2 separate regions of the Homo sapiens genome follow, and region 2 is linked to region 1. The links come from fine-mapping of genetic effects on gene expression. A gene starts in region 1. The other region holds a variant in brackets. All regions are shown on one strand. Distances are from middle to middle.

The links. PIP is the estimated chance that this variant, and not a neighbour inherited with it, causes the effect.
Region 2: its variant is fine-mapped to the expression of RBPMS in nasal epithelium (TOPMed, PIP above 0.99).

Annotation. Positions count from the first base shown.
Region 1 is chr8:30,382,457-30,387,837 of GRCh38, reverse strand. It overlaps RBPMS (RNA binding protein, mRNA processing factor), which reads right to left and starts at 3,297. Exons shown (of 9, transcript NM_001008710.3): 1 at 2,680-3,297. The coding sequence starts at 2,745. It overlaps RBPMS-AS1 (RBPMS antisense RNA 1), which reads left to right and starts at 2,437. Exons shown (of 3, transcript NR_046205.1): 1 at 2,437-2,694; 2 at 4,141-4,294; 3 at 5,223-5,381. RefSeq lists enhancers at 2,168-2,839, 2,840-3,510.
Region 2 is chr8:30,472,141-30,477,521 of GRCh38, reverse strand. RBPMS (RNA binding protein, mRNA processing factor) reads right to left here. Exons shown (of 9, transcript NM_001008710.3): 2 at 2,666-2,743. Among named protein-coding and RNA genes, the nearest start is that of RBPMS-AS1, 89 kb to the right of the region's middle. RefSeq lists a silencer at 1,562-1,753. The variant G/C (reference allele first, on the strand shown) is at 2,172.

The DNA.
Region 1 (5,381 bases):
CATTAGAAACTCTCAAAAGAAGCTAAAATACACTGATTGATAGAAGGAATTCGTTTCGAAACTAGAAACACAGAAAAAAACAAACTTGGGTTCTACAATGTGGAGAAAGCCCAAACCACCCTCATGATCTGTGAAATAAACTATTTTCCCTTAATGATGATTGGACTCATTTTTCCATGTCAGTTCAATGGCTACCAGAAATTACAACGAAACACATTTTTCCTCTCGTCATTACGTGTATATATCTATGTTGTATGTGTGTGTTCTGTTTACTGGAGTCCACCGCCAAGGTTTTTAAATGTGCTTAAGAGCAAGTTGCTGATACAATGGGTGGGCAGGGAAAGGGTCAGTGCAGTGGTTTTGTGTAATGCCGGGCACATTAATGGCACTCACCTAATACTCTATTTATTTTACCTGTGGCTTTCAGGGTTAGAAAGAAAAAAACAAAAAAGAGGTTAAGAGTTTTTCAAGAACAAAATATAAACCAAAAATAGGAAATTAAGGCAAAATTACCTGGATCATTCAGGCCACCTTAGTTTCTTTTCCTCAATTTCTGACATTATAAACCCCCCTCTCTTCACGGTCTTAACTGTTTTGTACACGACATCTCTCTTGGACAACTTGGGTTCTGAAATCTTCCTACGTGTCCCCTTACTTTTTACATAACAAGTGTTTTGCTAAAAAGACCGATACTTTCTAGAGCCACATGCCATTCCTACCTGAAAAGGAACGCTGTCAGATAACAGGACAAGTAAGAGGCAGCAACTGTACTGCAATGGCCCGCGATTATACAGCGATTATTATACACAACCTCACAAGGACGGAGGAGCGTCCAGGAACAGGGCAGGCAATCCCTTGGTCCTGGCAGCTGTTAAGAGGGGTCAAGCAGAAAAATGTGACTTTTCTATACTTAATTTTAATGTGGGTATGATTTTTAGGACATTGAACCTCTTTTGCTACCTACCAAAAGGAAAAAAAAAAGTTTTCTCAACTGGGTGAATAAAGAAAGATGGTTTCATATAATATTCTAACCCTGAGAAGCAAACAGATTGCACATCTAGCTGAAACAGAAAGATTTCTGAAGCGATGATTATCTTGATATGGTAAGTGAATTAGTTAAATATGGTAATTCCTAAAAAAGCACACTTGTCATTATTTTTAAATTTTTTTAAGTGGTAGGGAAAATAAATAGCAAAGCAGCCAGTAAAGTTCAAGAAAAAAAATCAGAACACACCATTCAACTCTCCATCGCTTTGAAAAAAGAAATGCCAGTAGCATTCCTACAATTGTAATTAGAAAACATGCAAGTAAACAACTCTTCAAATAGTCTTTTATAATAAAATAGAAAATGTCCTCGGGTGAAAAAGCAATTTTTGGCTGACTGCAATTCATTTAGGTTTTCACTACCATACAACTGGGTGACGAGTAAAATCTCCTATTTATTTTGCATTGTTTGGCATAGTCTCGCTCCTCTACCTTCTCCATCTAAATAGTTACCATTTTCCAAGTGGACAATGTGCAGAGAAGTTGTATGTATTAATGAATTCCTCTGCAATTTTGGTTTCACTATCAGAATTGAAGTTTGCACACAACATAGTGTCTCAACAATGATCTCAACATTCTAACGCTTTAGAATCCGTTTACCTTCTGTGTTCACCTATATCAGGATCCAATACCTGTGTGAATCTTTTCGGGTCATATTTAGACGTGCACTTTCCTGCATCTACACACACTCTCAAGTTCCTCTAGAATGTTTAAGAACTCAACTGTGTGGGATGTTAAGAAGTACGCCAGAAATAATTTCTTGGACTCCAGATAACGTACCTGCAAAAAGAGTCATTTGGTAGGATACCACAAATATCCTACTGAATTCTGAAACGTTTGTTCCTGAGTCCGACTCCCCTTCTGACCACATCTACTCAATTTTGTTTCCACCGAAGGAACGCTCCGCAGTCACAAAACTTTCATCATGATTACGGACGCACCACCTAAAATGCATGCTCAGAAGTCAAAGTCCTATGAAAATACCCTCGATGAGCATTTGGTGAATTGCTGCGTTTTTAACCCTCTTACTCTGCTCCCCTCAGCTGCACGGCCCCTAAAATCACAAGCGTTCACCGCCCAGGCTCGGGGTCTTTGACTCAGCAGAGAAGAATGTGGCTGATGAGTTATCTATTAATCCAAAAAACCTCGGCTAGAAAGATATTTCACCAAGAACTTTTAACACGGAAAGGGAGGGGGCAGGGAATAGAGGTATCTTTTAACGAGAACTTTCCCCCGAGTTTCTTCCTTAAACTGCTCCCCCCCCGACCCTGAATCCATACACAATTTCCAGCCCCGGCCCTAAGTCCTGACCCTCCGAGTCCCGATTATCTGAGGTCACCCAGGAGTCAGCTCTCGGTTCCACTTATAAATCCCGGGCAAACAAAGCTGAGCATTATACTTACAAAAGTCTCCGAAAAGTCCTTGGAGTTACGCAATTTGGGGCCCGCAGACGCGCGTGGACACAAAAACACACGCTCCCGAGATCCACCCTCCCCGGGCCACACTGTGGGGCTGCGTCCGGGGCACGGGCCATGCCTGAACCTTCTTCCACCGCCGCGCCCCGGGCCCGCGCCCCGCCGGCCGCCCGCACTGGGTCCCGCGTCGCCCCCGCCACCACACCGAGCCGCCCAGTACCTCCTCCTCCTGAAGGTTGGCCTCGCTCGGGGTGTTCTCCTTCTCGGCTTTGCCGCCGTTGTTCATCTTCCCGGTCCTTCCTCGCCGGGCCGGGCAGGGCTGGGGCGCGGGGCTGGGCGAGGGCGCGCTAGCCCACTGGAGCCTTCCCCGGGCGCCGGGGCTCCCTCGGGCGGGCGCCGCGGGCTGTGGGGCTGGAGCTGGAGCCGGGGCAGTGGCTGTCGGGCTCGGGTTGGGCTGGGGCTCCCGCGGCGAGTCTGCGACGGCGGCGGCGGGCGACTCAGGAAGTGCAAGGGAGAGACGGGGCAGGGCGCGGGCCGGGAGCGGGGCACCGAGACAATCGGGCCCCGGGAGGGCGACCTGGAGAGGGAGGGCGGGAGCCAGGGGAGGAAGGAAGAAGGAAGGAAGGAAGGAAGCAAAGGATGGGGCGAGGACGCGCGTCCCAGGAGTAAGCGCGGAGAGTTGGGGCTGGGGGCTGCAGCCGCTGGAAGGAGGGGACGGGGGTGCCTAGAGAGGAGGAGGAGGAGGAAGAGGAGGAGGAGGAGCGGGGCGGAGGAGCGCGGGCCGCGGCTGGGACGCTGGGACCCGAGAGCCGCTGAGTACGCGCTCCAGGCAGGCTCTGGGAAGTCCGGGATGGAAGCAGCTCCCTTTCTCTCGCCTTCCTCCCTCCCCTCTCCCCTCCCTCCTCTCCGCGCCTCTCCTCCTCCCTCCGCCCTCCCTGGACGTGGGCTGCCGGCTGCAGCCCGGAGGGACGGGGCGCGGGACGGAGCCCCCCGCGGGAGGAGGGGCCGGCGGCCGGATGGCGCGCGCCGGGGAGGGGCAGCGGGCCGCGGGCGGAAGCGGCGACCCCAGCCCCCGACTCAGCGGCTGGTCGGAGGGCGAGGGCCCGGGAGGCCGAGGGCAGGGAGGTCGGGTCCCGCCGTTCCCTTGGCCCCCGGGGGCCCCGGCGTCTGCGCGCCCCGGGACTTCGGGGACCCTGCCCCGCCGGGGCCTGGACCGGGACCTGGGATGTGTGCGACTTTTAGTTTGCCGGCTTTTACCGAGGGATTTGCACCCCTGGCCCTAAGCCCACCCTTCCCGAGCCAGACCCGGTTCTTCCTCTGCTGCTTGAATGACAGCATGAGAACTCGAGGGACACCGGGGACAGCCCACTCCGGGCCGGCTTTTTCAGGACAGGGCTTCAAACCCATCTCCAGCGCGGGTCCTGCGACGCGCCCGGAGCCTTCCCCGCTTCGCTTCCTGAGCGTCCCGCGGCCCCCCGACTCCTCTCCCAACTCTCACCAGACTGTTCTGGGATTGTTTACCTGGCCTCTCCCTCACCCTTCAGAAAGCTCCTTCCTGGAAGAAAAAAAAAAATCCTGCCCTATTTATCTTTTTAATCCCACGGCTATTTAAACGGGCTAAGGGGTATATAGCAGGCACTCAATAAATATTTGTTGGCAAAGTGAATATTCCTTATTGCAGGCAGAGCTGGGGGTCCGTACGGAGGAACTTCAGAGGCTGGAAGCACGCTTGAAAAAGAAAGGGGGCCTGGGCTTTGCACCAGCTTCAGGATTGCGTACTTGTTTCCTCATCCGTGAAATGGGAGCAGCTGAATGTGTCTCCTCGAGTTTTCGAGGTGATTATAGGTTGATAGAGCTATATACAGCACCCAGCATTTATTCTTGCTTCGTTTAGGTTTACAATACATGGAAGCTAACATTATTATTAAGAAAACTTCTATTTTTCCAGGGCCTTAGAAAGCGTTTCCAATACTCGATCATTTAAGCTTATGGTTTTTTGGTTTTTTTTTTTTTTAGAAAAATGAGGGTCTCACTTTGTTGCTCAGGCTGAGCTCGAGCTCCTGGCCTCAAGTGATCCTCCTGCTTTTGGCCTCCCAAACTGATGGGATTACAACGTGGAGCCACCGTGTTAAACTCTTAGATTTGACTGCTACAAAGGTATAAATGTGGAACTCCATATATCAGTGGGTTCTGCCCCACTTCTTCCTCCCAGGAATTCTCCATCCCAGCCTGCTGCTCCTGTCTTGCACCGGTAACAGTTTCCAACTACAGTATTTGCTTAACTGTTTCTCCCCACCCCCACCAGACATTCTTTATACTTGGTTTAAGTGCTGCTGGGGATAGGGCGGGGGTGGCTGTGGGAGTTGCAGATAAGGACCCTCCCTTTAGGGAGTTTAAAGTGGTATGGTGGCTCACACTTGGAATCTCAGCACTTAAGGAGATAGAGGAAAGAGGATTGCTTGAGCCCAGGAGTTCAAGACCTGCCTGGGCAACATAGTGAGACTCTGTTCTCCACAGAGGGGAAAAAAAGAAAAGACAAAAAAATAAAGTGGTATGGAGCCAAGATACTCTCAGAATCCTCTTTCCGATTATAGAAAGCAAGGAAAATATTTGCTTTAAGGGCATTATGAGGAGAAAAACAGTAGTGATACTTGGATTTACATATTGGATTTATCTTGGGGGTTTGGAGATTTTGAAACAGGAAGATTTCCATAAGGAAAACATGTTTTTTTAATTGCTGTCATAATGTGATTTCTCTCTAAGGGGAACAAACATGTATCCTGGATGAAAATAAACCAACTCTTGAAACTGCAACCCAAGACATTCAGAAGAGATAAGGCTACAGTGAATGTGGAAACTTTGCACGTGTTTGGATGTATTGATTGCCTTAACTGGCAGCTCTTTGCACTGCCAGCTTCCCTC
Region 2 (5,381 bases), 90 kb before region 1:
AGTGTCTCTGTTAATAGCAATCTTTTTGTTTTCTTGGTCTAGATAAGAATAGGAGTTTTACAGAAATAGGCAAGGAAAGAGGGTAAATTTAATACAACAGGAAGGTCAGAGCCATGTATTGGTCATGTAGCTGCTATAAAATAACAACAATAAAACATTAAGAATATAGTTGGGGCTGGGTGCGGTGACTCACGCCTGTAATCCCAGCACTTTGGGAGGCCAAGGCGGGCGGATCATGAGGTCTGGAGATCGAGACCATCGACAAGTGGTGAAACCCCATCTCTACTAAAAATACAAAAAAATTAGCCGAGCATGGTGGTGGGTGCCTGTAGTCCCAGCTACTTGGGAGGCTGAGGCAGGAGAATGGTATGAACCCGGGAGGCAGAGCTTGCAGTGAGCCGATGGCGTCACTACACTCCAGCCTGGGAGACACAGCCAGACTCCGTCTCAAAAAAATATAGTTGGTAAAACTCCCTGACCACATTTTCAAAACTGCCAGAAATGGTTAAGCAGGCAATGATGTTGAATTTTGTTGAGTTACTTTGCTAACTTACTGAAGGAACCAGTTTTCATGTTGCTCTTCTGATGGGGACATGCAAAAATAATCCCTTCAGGTTTTTATTCCAGCTCATGCTCAAGGAAGACAGAAACACTCCCTCCCTCTTTCACTCCCTCTCTTCACCCCTCCCGGCTCCTCAAGATAAGGATAACAAAATGTGTTTATTTCTGAAAATAATCAATAGCTGGTGGCTTGCATTAACGGACGACACAGGGGAAAAACACACCACTTGACGTGATTGACCACTACACACATCAGCGCAGAGACAGATTTGCAGACTAGGGTCAGCCTCCAGGGACTTTAATTAAAAGAGGGTTGTCAGGAATGTACTAGGGTGCTGACTTTCTAGTCGGGGTTTCTGGGCAGGATGTTGAGATTGATTCATCCTTACATCTTCCCAGCAGAGAACTATGTTACCAATTAGCTACTATAAACATTTCACCTCAAAGGCCTTGAGCTCTTATGGCCAGAGAGGTCATGATTCACAGCTCTGCCTCTTCCTTTCTTCAAGGTGCTCTCTTCTGAAAAAACTAGAGGTTTAAACACCATGAAGGTCTTGAAGGCAAAGGACAACTGGATATTTCACTCAAGTAAAACACCACTGGTAGGGATATACTGTGTTCTCAAGTCACAAACAGAAAAGCAGTATAACATAATAGTTCAGAACAGAGAGGGCAGAGTCAGACTGCTTGGTTTGAATCTTGGCTCTGCCAATTTTTATGTGTGTAAACTTGAGCACAATTTATTCAGCTCCAAGTTTCATTTTCCTCATTTGAAAAAATGAGACTCACCCACTTGAAAGGATTGTGACAATACTTTAATAATTCATATAAAGGGCTTGCTGGTGAATGTCTTTCTCTCTATACACCCCAAAACATAACAGTATTTTATACACTAAGAAGATCAATTTGCGTTAAAAGTTTGCATTCTATAAAAAGGATAGAAAAATGGTCCTTTTTATAAAAGTACAACCCGGCAGAAGAAACTCAGGAAATTCTATAAAAGGTGGCACTCTCTCCATACCACCTTCTCTTCCTTTCCCACTTCCTCCCACCTGACCTGGCACCTGACCTCTGTTTCCCTGTGCCATCATCATTATTGTTGCATTAAAGCGATGGCTGTCAGGTGGACTTATGTCCCTTATGACATGGTGCCCTCTTGGCACATAAGCTAGACTGTTTTATCTTTGTTGGTTCTAACTGGCTGCCCCTGCATCCCTCCTTCCTCCTCCCCAACACTAGAGTTTTTAGTTGTCATATCCAATTCCGTCTTCCTAAGAAGCTGAATCCTATCCCTCAACCTGTCATGCCTCTATCACTGGGGACCTGCTTCAGTGAGAATGATCTTTAACCAGAAATCAAGACAGCCCATCACCTAATCATAAGTGTGGTCTCTGCCAGGCACTGCTGCTAACACATCCACACTGACCAACTTAAGACTTCCTGAGCACAGGCCCTTCCAGAGAAGGAACATATCCCTTCCAGGGCCCCGATTCGATCAGCTCCAGCTTTCTCCTATCCTCCAAAGGCCAACCTTCAAAAGGTTTCTTCTTGGCAGCAAGGCTATTTTGGCTTAGTTTCTACGAAGTGCTTGGTGTTTAATTTCCTATGAA[G/C]TTTTCAATCCTAGCAACATTAAGTATCTATCAAGTGATCTTATTTCCATAGGAAGGACAGGTAACTGCATTAAATATTTCAATAAACACCAGGAAATATTACCATCAACTTACACCTAGGTATCCTTTAAAATTTTGTTTTACTTTGTTTGAAAGTTTTGCCATGGAAAAAATAACGGTGGTTAGGTTCTTAACTCAGTTCATAAAAACCTATTTACATTTCCAAAGAACAGTATCAACAGTACTATTTCAAATAATAAGGTATGAAACTAGAAATAAATCTTCACTTACATTACTGCATTTGAAATATAAATATGTAATTATCCTAAGTGAGACTGTACATTAGAACTCAGTTGTTAAATCTCCTTTACTCATTAACCTTTTAAAAACATCTGTTTTCTTCTCAAATATTTCATTTCTTGCTTCAAAAAGCTCCCAGAAAGCATACAGACTTTTGTCTCATTTTATAATTTCTGAAAGATAAAAAAAGGTACCTTAAATGGTCTGAAAAGCAGATAGAGCTCCCGAGGTTTGATATCCAGAGGAAGGCCACTGACAAATAGGGTCCGGACCTGGAAAAATAAATTTAGGAAGTGATCAAGGGTGTGGACACTCCAGAGAGTTAACTCTCACCTGATATCTCAGAAACATATTATTCCAAATATTCCACAACTCATACTAAATTCATGCTCTTTCCATGATACAACGAATACTTCACTGTTAAGATGCCACTAAGCCAACACTTTTTTTTCCTTTTTAAATTTTAGGGGAGATGCAGCCTTCTGTGTAATCTTAAGGTACATCCCCTAAGCCAACACTTGAATATTTCTATGTGAATTATTCAGAGTGAATTACATCTAGTTGATTTAAATTTACAAGCTAACTTTTCCCAACTAGCCATTGCACACTTCTAAAAATGTGAAGGATGGGGGGAGGTTCCATATAATTTAAATATTAGCTTAAGAAAAAAATGACATGAGCACAGTAAATCTGCCACTCCTCTGCCCTAAATATATCGCCTATATAATGTGCTTCAAAAATAATATAAAAACAATTTGTTTCCTCCTGCTTGTTTTGTTGCTGCTTTCCTCATAGGCATTAATTACAATAACTTTAATAAATGTAAAAGTAAAGTTAAGCCCAATGCACCTAAATAGTAACCAAAATGCATTAACTCTTCATCTGTTCGGTTCCAAAACAGCAGGGCCAACCTCACTGACTATTGTTCCCATTGCATTTTTGTTGTTGTTGTTGTTTTTTAAATTTTAAGTACTGGGGTACATGTGCAGGATGTACAGGTTACAAAGGTAAACACATACCATGGTGGTTTGCTGCACAGATCAACCTATCACCTGGGTATTAAGCCCAGCAACCATTAGCTATTCTTCCTGATGCTCTTCCTCCCCTCAAGCCCCCGACAAGCCCAATGTGTGTTATTCCCCATCATGTGTCCCTGTGCCCTCATCCTTCAGCTCCCACTTGTGAGAACATGTGGTGTCTGGTTTTCTGTTCCTGTGTTAGTTTGCTGAGGATGACTTATAGTTCCACCCATGTCCCTGCAAAGGACATGACCTTGTTCCTTTTTGTGGCTGCATAGTATTCCATGGTGTATATGTACCACATTTTCTTTATTTAGTCTATCATTGATGGACATTTGGGTTGATTCCATGATTTTGCTATTGTGAATAGTGCTGCAATGAACATACACGTGCATGTATCTTCCTAACAGAATGACGTATATTCCTTTGGGTATATATCCAGTAATGGGATTGCTGGGTCAAATGGTAGTTCTGCTTCTAGATCTTTGAGGAATCGCCATACTGTCTTCCACCCACTGTGTTTAAGGCACAATCAACACATAGGCCACCATGTACAAGGTACCTGGCTACGGTGCCACTAATAAAAGTCATTCAAGACACATATGTAAATACATATAGTGCAAAGTGTAGGGTACACACTATGTGCTTAGTGTCTACTAAAACACAGAACACAGGGGAAACACCAGAGAAAGCATCTGAGTAAGAATCGAAAGGATGGGCATTTACCAAATAGAGCCAAAAGATGAGGTGGGATCCCTAAGAATCACAGGCAGAGAAAAGGATTCACCAAGGCAGTGAAGTAGGAGAAGAAGAAAACATTCTTGGGGAAGGGCAAGCCAAAACTAAACAAGAAGCTTAGGGTCAAACACACAAAACATCAAAAGCCACTGGCTCAGGAATTTGATCTTGATTCAATAGGCAAGGAGTAGCTACTGAATTATCATCATATTTTCTATTTGTTTTTCTCTACTCAAACACAGATGCAACATGATTGAAAATTCGATGCTCAATTGTTCAATTGTTAACCATGAATATATACATGAAAGATTTTTCCTCAGTGAAAGATGGGGAGAATATTAGACAGACAGACAGTCTGCTACCATGTCTGGCTAATTTTTTGTAAAGATGGGGTTTCACCATGTTGCCCAGGCTGATCTCAAACTCCTGAGCTCAAGAGATCCTCCCATCTCGGCCTCCCACAGTGCTGGGATTACAGGCATGAGCCACCTCGCCTGGCTTTTTCTAGATTCCTAACACTTTTCACTGTTTCCTGTTACACAGAAGTGCGAATCACCAAGCAAGGCCCTTTTATTGACCCAGCACAGTACACAGTAAAATGTCATGCCATTTGCATGTAAGTATGTTTGATAAACACTATAATGATGTAAATAGCCCCAGAATTCTGAATGCCTTATTTTATGATATATTTATAAACAGCTTTATTGAGGTTATGATTGATATATAATAAACTACACATCTTGAAATATGTGATGTTTTGACATATGTATAACCTAAGAAACATCACAACCAAGACAATCTATCACCACCATCACAACCAAGACAATCTATCACCACCAAAAGTTTATTCATGCCCCTTTAATCCTTCCTCCCACTCTGTCCCACCATTCTCCATCCCCAGGCAATCACTGCTCTGATCTCTTTATATTAGTATATATGTCTCAAACACTTACATATACAGAGGGAACCACAGAGTATGTACCCTTTTCATCTGGCTTCTTTCCCTTAGCATGAAGTGAAATTTACTTTGAGATTCATCTATGTTGTTGAATGTATCAACAGTCTATTCCTTTTTATTACTGAGAAGTATTCTGTAGTGTGGATACACCACAGTTTATCCATTCACATGTTGACATTTAGGTTATTCTAGTTT